2 separate regions of the Homo sapiens genome follow, and region 1 is linked to region 2. The links come from fine-mapping of genetic effects on gene expression. A gene starts in region 2. The other region holds a variant in brackets. All regions are shown on one strand. Distances are from middle to middle.

The links. PIP is the estimated chance that this variant, and not a neighbour inherited with it, causes the effect.
Region 1: its variant is the best candidate, but not a certain one, in a credible set for the expression of BCAT1 in whole blood (Lepik 2017, PIP 0.53).

What each region holds. Positions count from the first base shown.
Region 1 is chr12:24,909,462-24,914,843 of GRCh38, reverse strand. All of the region lies in intron 1 of BCAT1 (branched chain amino acid transaminase 1), which reads left to right. Among named protein-coding and RNA genes, the nearest start is that of BCAT1, 37 kb to the left of the region's middle. RefSeq lists a silencer at 3,095-3,389. The variant G/A (reference allele first, on the strand shown) is at 2,167.
Region 2 is chr12:24,945,962-24,951,343 of GRCh38, reverse strand. BCAT1 (branched chain amino acid transaminase 1) reads left to right here and starts at 2,243. Exons shown (of 11, transcript NM_005504.7): 1 at 2,243-2,417. The coding sequence starts at 2,412. It overlaps BCAT1-DT (BCAT1 divergent transcript), which reads right to left and starts at 2,181. Exons shown (of 3, transcript NR_199054.1): 1 at 2,014-2,181. RefSeq lists enhancers at 1,790-1,879, 2,000-2,349.

The DNA.
Region 1 (5,382 bases), 36 kb after region 2:
TGTTTCCTAATTTTTCTACCATTTTTCTGTCTTGGAATCACCAAGCCCTGCAGGCTTTAGCTAGACAACTTGATATAAACTTTGGAAGAAATAATGACAGCAACTTAATATATGAGCAGTGTTCATGTCAGCTGATGTATGGATTACTCAGAAGGTTTACTTGAACACCTGATTCAAACTATAATCCAGAAATATCTGTAAGATTGCCACTGCAATCTGAAGCTACTTCAGAGACTCTAGGAAAATTAGTTTATAGACAACTCCAGATGTTAATCTTTGTTTTTCTTTTGTTTTCATGGAAATGCCTTTTATTAAACATCTGATTGCTTGATTCATAGAGGCCTGACTTTGGTGGAAGCAACACCACTGCCTGAAATGAGATATAACTGTTAACCGTTTAATTGGAGCGGCCTGTTCTCACGACTGCAAGACTAGTTCAATGGCTTATAAAATAATCCACCCGCTGGGCACAGTAGTTCACACCTGTAATCTCAGCACTTTGGGAGGCTGAGGTGGGCAAATTGCTTGAGCTCAGGAGTTCGAGACCAGCCAGAGCAACATGGTGAAACCCTGTCTCTACCAAAAATATAAAAAATTAGCCGGGCATAGTAGCATGTGCCTGTGGTCCCAGCTCCTCGGGAGGTGGATGTGGGAGGATTGCCTGAGCCTGGGAGGCAGAGCTTGCAGTGAGCTGAGATTATGACACTGCACTCTAGCCTGGGCAATACAGTGAGACCCCATCTCAAAAAAAAAAAAAAAAGATAATCTACCAACCCAATTTCTCAACTGGGGAATGTTGGGCTCCTGCTCTCCTGTCTCTGACCTTTCATTCTCCCTTGAGGCTAGCCATCAAGACTACAACCCCTCTTCCCCAAAGTGGGCCATAGAAACAAAACCCCTTTTCCCCAAAGCCAACCATAAAACCTAAAAATAGTACTCTAACTTCCACCACCCCCAGCCTGTCTGTGTAAGGCCATAAAGAAATTATCTGACTCACTTTGTTTGACTGAAGGTTATAAGACCCCCATTCCAGAGAGGGTCCAGCACCACACCCAGAAGGAAGAAATGCATGCTCAGAGAGGCAAGAAGGGTCCAGACAGACAGGCTGTGCTGGATTTCCCTGCTCAGTCTATTAGCATTAGACCATACCTTTTTTGTCCAATCATATTTCTACGTGGCTCTCCATACTTTGTTTAACCTAACCTAAGGGGGCTCAGGGTTTTGGCCTGGGCATTGTCTGTTGGGGAATAGAGTGAGTCATCCCCAGCTCATGGGTTTGCATCCAGTTCTTGTTGTAAAAGGCCCAAAGCCTGTTGGATGGCAACCCTGAGCCATCGTGGAAGGGGGGTTCCAGTTTCACAAATAGATACTCAGACAGCCAAACTACCATCTACTTGGTGCCAACGTTTGCACTGTGGTCAAAGACTTACCTAGCACAGACTGAACAAATCTTCCCATCTGTCACATAAATGTCCCCAAGCAATGTTGAAGCACATGCCAGGATCGGCCTTGCTAGGTCCTGCTTGGTAGATAAGCAAATGGCTTCCTTGTGGTGTTTTTATTCTATTTTGTCTCATTAACACTACAACTTTGTGTTATCTACTTGATAATCTGTAATTGTAAATACATACAGGATTATGTAATTTGTGTAAATACATAATGACAGACTTCTGAAAACTGGTATTTTTTACTTGGTGTCCATTTGAAGCTGTTTTAGGTTCTGTGGCACATGAACCAATGGCATTTAAAAAGCATACTCTCCTTGCTCTTAAAAAAACAAACAAAACAAAACAAAAACTGTCCATTAAAATTTTTGTATTTTTGTAAAGACAGGGTTTCACCATAAAAATGGACAGTTTCCCTTATATCTTTGGGTCTTCGTTCTGTAGGCTCTCGTGTCACATAAAATTATGATCAAATAAATTTGTATGACTTTTCTCCTATTAATCTGCCCCTTGTCAATGATTTTGAGCAACCTTCTGAAGAAAGTGATGGGGAAGTATTCCCTTTGCTGCCACAAGGTATATATCAGATAAGTCAGTCTATTTTCTTGAACATATATCACATTCATAGGAAAAACACTTTTTCCAAAAGATTACTGTCTTCCCAAATACCCACGTTCTCCATTTTTTTTTTTTTTTTTTAGAGATGGGGTCTCACTGTGTT[G/A]TCCAGGCTAGTCTCAAGCTTCTGGACTCAAGCAATCCTCTCACCTCAGCTTCCCAAAGTGCTGTGATTACAGACATAAGCCATCACGCCCGGCCCCATTTTCTCCTTTGGGTGTATGTATATTGCTCATTGTCAGGCATCAACCATTTCTCTTCTCTGAGATGGAGTCTCACTCTGTCACCCAGGCTGGAGTGCAGTGGCGCAATCTTGGCTCACTGCAAGCTCTGCCTCCCTGGTTCACGCCATTCTCCTGCCTCAGCCTCCCGAGTAGCTGGGACTACAGGTGCCCACCACTACGCCCGGCTAATTTTTTTGTATTTCTTTTTTGGTAGAGACGGGGTTTCACCGTGTTAGACAGGATGGTCTCAATCTCCTGACCTCGTGATCCGCCCGCCTCGGCCTCCCAAAGTGCTGGGATTACAGGTGTGAGCCACTGCGCCCAGCCCTCTTCTAATTTTTTATATTTATCATGTATTTACTAGAACTGGTTTATTTTCGTGAGCATATGTTGTGGATTCTACTATAAATAATGCACTTAATAATCATTAATAAAACTTAAATCCTTTCCGTCTTGATTGTGGCCTTTTCTTTTTGCTATTAATTTCCTCAGCATAGGTTAACCTGAACTCTTAAAAGCTATTTAGGTACTGGTATAAAACAAAATTTTCTCCAAAGCAATCCAGTATATAATATCTGGATTTTAAAAAAGCAGCCTCATTTAATTAGGATTAATTTCTCCTTTCAGAAGTTAAGTGATTCTGTTTCTGTAAAACGCAAAATTATAAGCTTAATTGTTTTCCACACAGGAAATGAAATTCCTAATCTTTTTATCCAGAATCTTCATGTGTTTGTCTCTCTGTCCATCTGTCACTCCTTTTTAAGGTACCTGGAGATGACCTAGAGGCTTGCCACGCTTAGGGTTTCCTCCCTGTGCAGAAGAAGATGGGAAGTGCAAATGAGGACGAGGGGTGGGGAGGGAAGAGGGAGTCAGGTGATTCAGCAAGTGCAGGAGCCCACAGACTAAGCTCAGGAATTTGCACTTTGTCTGCTCGCAGAGTGAGTTTCATCGTGGTGTGTATATATTGAGATATGCAACAGACTCCACTGGAATGTCAGAAGAACTTATGTTTATTTTTCCTCTAACATGTGGGAAAGATTAAACTGTATTTGTATTTAACTCACATAGATTGGCACGTGCTCATTCTGTGTGTCACCCTGCCACGCTGTCACAAACTTCGAGCAGGGTCCTGAGGGGAGAGGAGGGCATAGCTCCTGCTCCCAGGGGGTTGCCTGTGTAGCCCTGCGCATTCATTCTCTTCCAGAGGGTTGTGATTTGTGGCGGTCTGTGTGAGCCTGGTTAAGGAGAGTTACAGATTATGTCATCTGGTGTTAACTGATAATCTTTGCAAAAGGGACATTGGCTTTAAGAGATGTCTGCAAAAAAAACTCTAAACAAACATAAATAAAAATTTAAAAGGATAAAGCCAGAATAATAATGAAAATATTAGTAATGTAAAACAAGGAAATGTGTCATGTTTTTCATGATAACTAATATTTTTTCAATTTTTTTTTTTTTTTAAGACAGTCTCACTCTGTCACCAGGCTGGAGTCAGTAGTGCGATCTTGGCTCACTGCAACCTCCACCTCCCAGGTTCACACAATTCTCATGTCTCAGCCTCCTGAGTAGCTGGGTTTACAGGCACTCGCCACCATGCCCAGCTAATTTTTGTATTTTTAGTAAAGACAGGGTTTTACCATGTTGGCCAGGCTGGTCTCAAACTCCTGACCTCAGGTGATCGGCCGCCTTGGCCTCCCAAAGTGCTGGGATTACAGGCGTGTGCCACTGTGCCTGGCCCCAGTTCTTATTATAAGTTCTCCATTAACCATATCATGAGATTAAAAAAACAACAATGATTTCATCGGAACTGACAAATAGTGGGTGACACAATTTTGATCATCAAGAAGACTTTAAAAGAAGGATTTGTATCACTGTCATTACTGATTACTTGGCCCTTGTGTATACTGGGCCTTTAGCTAGGGCTGGTACAATAAAATAACCATAGTTAGAAAGATATTTTAAAGGATTACTTATTTCATGTTTATCTCACCCTTTTATCCCTATTTTTGGGCATGATTTATTATTATTAGGTTTTTAAATAAATAATGAAATAAGCATGTTAGGTTTGCATGCTGCTTTGGTTAACATTGCTATATAACCAACCACCCCAAACTTTGTGGCCTTAAAACAATAATTTATTTATTTATTTATTTATTTATTTATTTATTTATTTATTTATTTTTGAGACAGAGTCTCGCTATGTCACCCAGGCTGGAGTGCAGCGGCATGATCTCGGCTCACTGCAACCTCCACCTCCTGGGTTCAAGTGATCCTCCTGCCTCAGCCTCCCGTAGAGCTGGGATTACAGGCACCCGCCATCAAGCCCAGCTAATTTTTCCTTTATTTTTAGTAGAGACGGGGTTTCACCATGTTGGCCAGGTTGGTCTCGAACTCCTGATCTCAGGTGATATGCCTGCTTTGGCCTCCCAAAGTGCTGGGATTACAGGTGTGAGCCACTGTGCATGGCCAACAATAATTTATTTTTATCTCTCATGGTCTCTAGATTGCCTGGGCCCGGCTGAGCAGTCTGAGTCAGCCTTATGGTCTCTCATGTGTTTTTAATCAGTCATGAGGGGCCGGCATCATCTGAAGGCTTGACTGGGCTGGATGTTTAAGACAGCCACTCACAGGGCTGACAGTGATGCTGGATGTTGCACTGTTGACTAATGAGCCTGCACGTGGCTCCTCCATGTGATTTGGGCTATTTATAGCTGGGGTGACTGGGTTCTAGGTGGGGTAGTTCCAAGATCCTTCCAAGAGGAAGAAAGCAGAAACTGCCTGGCCAGTTAGTGTATATGCTTAGTCTTAGAACAGTGTCACTTCCATATTTCTCCATAGTCCATTAATCAAAGCAGTTACAGGAAGCAGACAGACAGGAAGGGAAAACACAATGCAACAGAAGGAGAGATTGAAGTGTTGGCAGCTGCAAGCCAAGAAACACCTGGGTTACCAGAAGCTAGAAGAAGAAAGGTAGGATTCTCCCCTACAGGTTCCAAAGGAAGCTGGGCCTGTCCACACCTCACCTCTGGAACTATGAGACAATCACTTTCTGTGGGTTTAAGCTACCCAGTTTGTGGCACTTTGTTACTACCGTCCTA
Region 2 (5,382 bases):
GATTACAGGTGTGAGCCACCATGCCGGGCCATAGAGTAACATCTTTATTGAGATATAATTCACATAACATACAATTCACCTATTTAAAGGGTATAATTCAGTGGTTTTTAGTGTGTTCACAGGGTTGTGTAACCATTACCACAATCTAATTTGAGAACATTTTAATCAATTCAAAAAGAAATCCAACGCCCATGAACATTCACTCTGCATTCCACCCTGTCCCCAGATTGAAAACAACTATGTGTTTTCTGTCTCTATGGATTTTCCTGTTCTGCACATTTCAGATAAGTGGAATCATATAATATGTAGTCATTTGTGAGACGCTTCTTTCACTTTGCATAGTTTTCAAGGTTCATCCATGTGACTGCATGTAATCAGTACTTCATTTCTTTTTATTGCAGAATATAATAATATTCCATTGTATGGATGATACCATGTTTTATTTAGCCATTCCTCAGTTGATAAACATTTTGCTACCTGATTTAAAGCTTACTTTCTGTTTCTCACACTAGTATATGAGCTTAATGAGGGTAAGAACATTTTTGTTGTTTCCCACTCAGTCCCTAGCATTTTGCACATTGCCTGTCTCATGTCAGTGTCAGGTTCAAATCTATCTAGCTGTGCTTTCACTGACGGGGGCCAGGAGGTTTCACAAGGACTCAATGGCTGATTAAATGCTTACAGATACAGATTTCTCAGGGCAGAACTTCTGCAAGCATTTTGGCTGTGGTCAGTTACTTTCAGGTTTTCATTACTTTTTGGTTTTCACAGCATCCGCAAGTGCCCATAGCCATTATCTCAGCTGCCTCTCTCTTTACTCTCTTGCCAATGGTGCCAGGCCACAGCAGGTGTTATCTTATCACCTCAGTCCACCATACATATGCTTATCAATTTGAGGGGTCAGCAATTTCACTGGAGGCTGAAACCCTTGTCATAAATGGCTCCATTTTGAGACATTTCAGATTACAAACCACTGTTATATACCAGCCTAGCATGTAGAAATCACTCAGTACATTTATTGAACACATAATTTAACCATTCATTCACCTGACCAACAGTCATTAAGCACTGACACATTTGTTTTCAACACTCCCTCTCTTCCACGGCAGGCCACTTGGTATGGGAGATAAATATGACAAAGGATCTGCCCTTACGAATCTCATAATCCACTGAAGTGACAACTGTGCAAACAAATAATTAAAGTAAAATTAAGAAGCTGGGCACAGTCTCACATCTGTAATCCCAGCAATTTGGGAGGCGGAGGCGAGGGGATTGCTGAGGCCAGGAGTTCAAGACCAGCTTGGCCAATTTAGTGAGACCCCATCTCCATTAAAAAATGATAAAATAAAATAATTGATTTTGAGAAAGGATGTGGACAAAGTGCAGCACATAGACCAAGGGCCCAGTTCTGTTTGAGGGCATTGGAAGCAACTTCCACAGCAAAGACTTGGGTTGAAATTTACAAAAATAGGAGTTTGCCAGCTTGACAGAGAGGCAGCGGAGGTCAACCAGCAGCACACTTAAGCAGTCATGGAGGCTGACCTAGGCGCTGGACATGGAAAAGTAGCAATCCTGGAGCTTTGTATAGATGTGGGGAGGGAACTTACAGGGGACCAACTAGGCTACTGGGCAATTTCACATTATAAAGAATTTTATATGCTCAAATTAAAGGATTAAAAATTTTCCCCCATGTACATAATAAATTGGCAAAAATGGTTATATTTGAGGGTGACTAAGGAACTCTGGGAAAGAGATCGGCAAACCAGGCACATGTTCTTGACTACTGCAAAAGTACATTTAAAGTAGCCGCGGGGGATACATGTATACTTTTGGGCAGGATTGTGCCGTGGTCCTCTCAGCATGCAGCAAAGTTACTTTGGGGACAGTAGGGAGGTGGGCAGGAGCCAGTGATGACGGAATGGCAATCACATTTGACCTCTGATCTGTTTATTTCCTCCTCCTTGACGTCTCCATATAAATGTTACACGGGCATCCCCACACTCGGATACGCACCCACAGTGGCTGATTCGGGGGTAACCGTGTCATTTGCTTGCAACACTGGCACCTCTGCCCTGCACCCCGGGAGTGAGCAGTGAGTGAGGCTCGGGTCTGGGCGCTGGCTCCGAATCTTCGGGCTGGGAGAGACTCCACCATCTGGGGGCGGCCTGGGGGAGCAGCCTTAGTGTCTTCCTGCTGATGCAATCCGCTAGGTCGCGAGTCTCCGCCGCGAGAGGGCCGGTCTGCAATCCAGCCCGCCACGTGTACTCGCCGCCGCCTCGGGCACTGCCCCAGGTCTTGCTGCAGCCGGGACCGCGCTCTGCAGCCGCAGACCCGGTCCACACGGCCAGGGGCTACGACCCTTGGGATCTGCCCTCCGCTCAGCTCGAGCTTCCCTCGTGGCCGACGGAACAATGAAGGTAACTACTTATGGTTTTGTCCGTGTTTTACAAAAATGTGTGCGTGAATCGAACCGGCGATTTCTCCAAGAAACATAGTTGGCAGGGAGGGGAGGAAGGCGAGACAACCATGGCTTATATCCCCCGCAAACGTCTCAGTATCTTCTTTATCAATCGTAGTTTGCGGGGACCGTGCATTCTGTTCAGATTTCGGTTTAACCTCCACTCGCAGGACGTGCCTTCTCGGACTTTTTCACATTCGCTTTTGGGAACGGAGGTGAAAGTCTGCTACAGCTCCCTCCCCTGCTTGTGAAGTTTGGAAAGGAAGTGAGGGCTTCTCTCAGTTTCTCCTATGCACAGGAGGTGGGGAATTTTGGAGAGGAGGTCTGGGGATGTCCCGGGCTGTAAATGCGCTTTCCTGCAGCGTGTGTTCGTGATGCAGGAGGGAGCGGCTGGAAGAGTTGACCCGGGTGGAGAGGGGAGGGAGAACGATCTTTTCACTGTTAAAAGCAGAAGGCCCCTCTTATTTTGTTTCTTGTGGAAATTAAAGCTTCTAGGAGTTACAAATGATAGACGCCTAAGGGCATTCATTTGTTAAACCAGTGAGCACCCTAATGGCTCTGATCTTGCTAATCAAGGATAATTAGCCTAGCTGCCTATTATTTCTGACTATTTAGGTGTAGGGATGTACACCGTTGAGTGTTTTGTTTTCCTAGTTTCACACACTGGAAAACTGCAATCGCATATAAAACCCGAAGAGCAACTTTTTCCAAGGAAAGTGAAGGATGGGCAGATATTCTTGCCATCTAACATTTTGGAATTGAGATGACCATAATGCAATCTGAACTTCTGGTAGGAATAAAGCCTCGTTTCAGAGTTTCTAAGGAGGGAGATGAAGCGTGGTTCTCAACTGCTCTTATCTACAACCCATCCCAGACCATAGTTTCACTTAGAAGAAATAATATGTAAATAGCGCCTTTGTTGCCAAACAAAAACTTTCACTACAATTAAACAGTAACCGAGTGGAAACTATGCGTTTTTGTATTCAACAGAGATCACACAACTTTTCTTCTATAGTTAGAGGTTCTATTTCTGGCTTCCTCATGCTTGTTTCATTTCAGATGAAAAACACACTTTAGTTGATTATAGCTTTAGTAAGTAAAAGGAGAAAACTAAGAATGAACAGTCTTGCTTTTCCAGCTTTTTCCTGTCCATGTGCAGTTGTGGTTAATTACGCGTTTTTGTAGGTCCAAAAACCCCTGTCCCTTCCACAAGATACTTTTATAACATGGGGAACTAGGTAAGATATCTACAAGTAGTCTCTTTTCTGTTTCCTGATATTTCCTAAGATTAAGAAAGAAATGATTGTATTCTAGGTATGATCGAAGAAGTATGGAAGGTTCCATTAAGTTAGTTTTATCACAATATTTCAAACATCTTTCCACTTATCTCTTAAATATGTATTGCTATCACAAGCTTGATTTTTTAAAAAAATGTTATTTGCACATGGCATCTTGATTGCCTTTGTCCTCAGCAAATTCTCCGGGCTTAAGTCATGCATGAGCTTGTATTTTAAGACAGACACATGCAGAATGGGCAACTTGGATAAGAAACATAGGATATACACTGAGTAGCATGTGTACAAAAATGGTAAGTGAGTATTATGACTTAATAAATTTAGATGGGGATTTAAAAATGATACACATGTAAATGGGATTGGAGGCAAGGGAAGTCCGTGTGTGTGTGTGTGTGTGTGTGTGTGTGTGTGTGTGTGTGTGTGGAGGGAAGACGGGAGGCCTAGTGGGGAGAGAGGTTTTACATTCCAGACACAGGATGTGGCCCCTCAGGCTAGGCTCAGAGATGTAAAGCTAGTTAAGCTGGCCTAACAAAAGGGTGGTGGTTAGAAAAAGGAAAAAAAGAGGTGGGGGTTGGGGAGGAAAAGAATTTAATGCTGGCCAATATTTTCATCTGATAAGTTTCAGTAATGAGTAATTTCACTGGATTTCAGAACTACAGAGAGAAAAGGGGAAAAATATTTTTCCTTTTTTACGCAAGAATTTCTCTTGCTTTTCAGCTCATTAGAACCAGATCTAATTATTTGAAATGAGTTTAAAACCTTATTATGAAAGGAAGTTGAAAACATTCGATCACAATTGAGTTTTGTACTATGGACTAAAACCAAGATGTGCTTTCTGTCAGTAGCTGTGCAACTCCCTGAAAAAAGAAAAATAGCGCAGAGCGATCTGAGCTTTGTGAAGGCTACACAATTTATCAGGCCCAGAGAGATAGGAGTGTGAGACTTCAGTCACGTCCCCCCGTACGCATGCGCAGGAGTAATTATTTAAAGACATTTTGTTCCTGACTAACTGCCTCACTCATTATGTTCCTGGAATTTGTGATACAAAAAAACAATGTTTAGCCTATCAATAGTTTATATAGTTTATGTTATTTTAATATAAATTCTTCTCAACTTAGAAACTGCCTCTTTTTTCTTTTAAAAACCCACTTGTAACTGCTGTATATATTCAGGGCAACTTGATTTGGTGTTTCGTTGGTTGCAGTCCTCAAATTTGACCTCAATATACTCTCTACTTATATAAATTTTGTCTCAGTTTTGTCCGTAGGCTGACATTCCAATTGTTTTCCTAATTATATATTTTGTTCCTTATTTCTCATGTCTAGAAATAAAGCTAGGGAAGTAAACAGCTGGAAAACTGATAGTGGTGTTATTAACCTAACTGAGAGGGCTGGGCTTATGAGTAAATTATTCCTGTGCATAAATGAAAGATTGTTTCTAAATGGCAGCTATGTTGAGCCTTTGTATTAGTTACATCTTTTGGGGTTTCAGGTTGCCAGCTTCTTTAAATGGCCTCTTCTCAACTGGTATAGGAAGTTGGAAAATAAAGAACTTTCTTTATTTCCCTTTAGTGTTGGTAACCACAGTTTCTTTAAATAACAGATGCCCACCCCAGGGAAACCCAGTGGC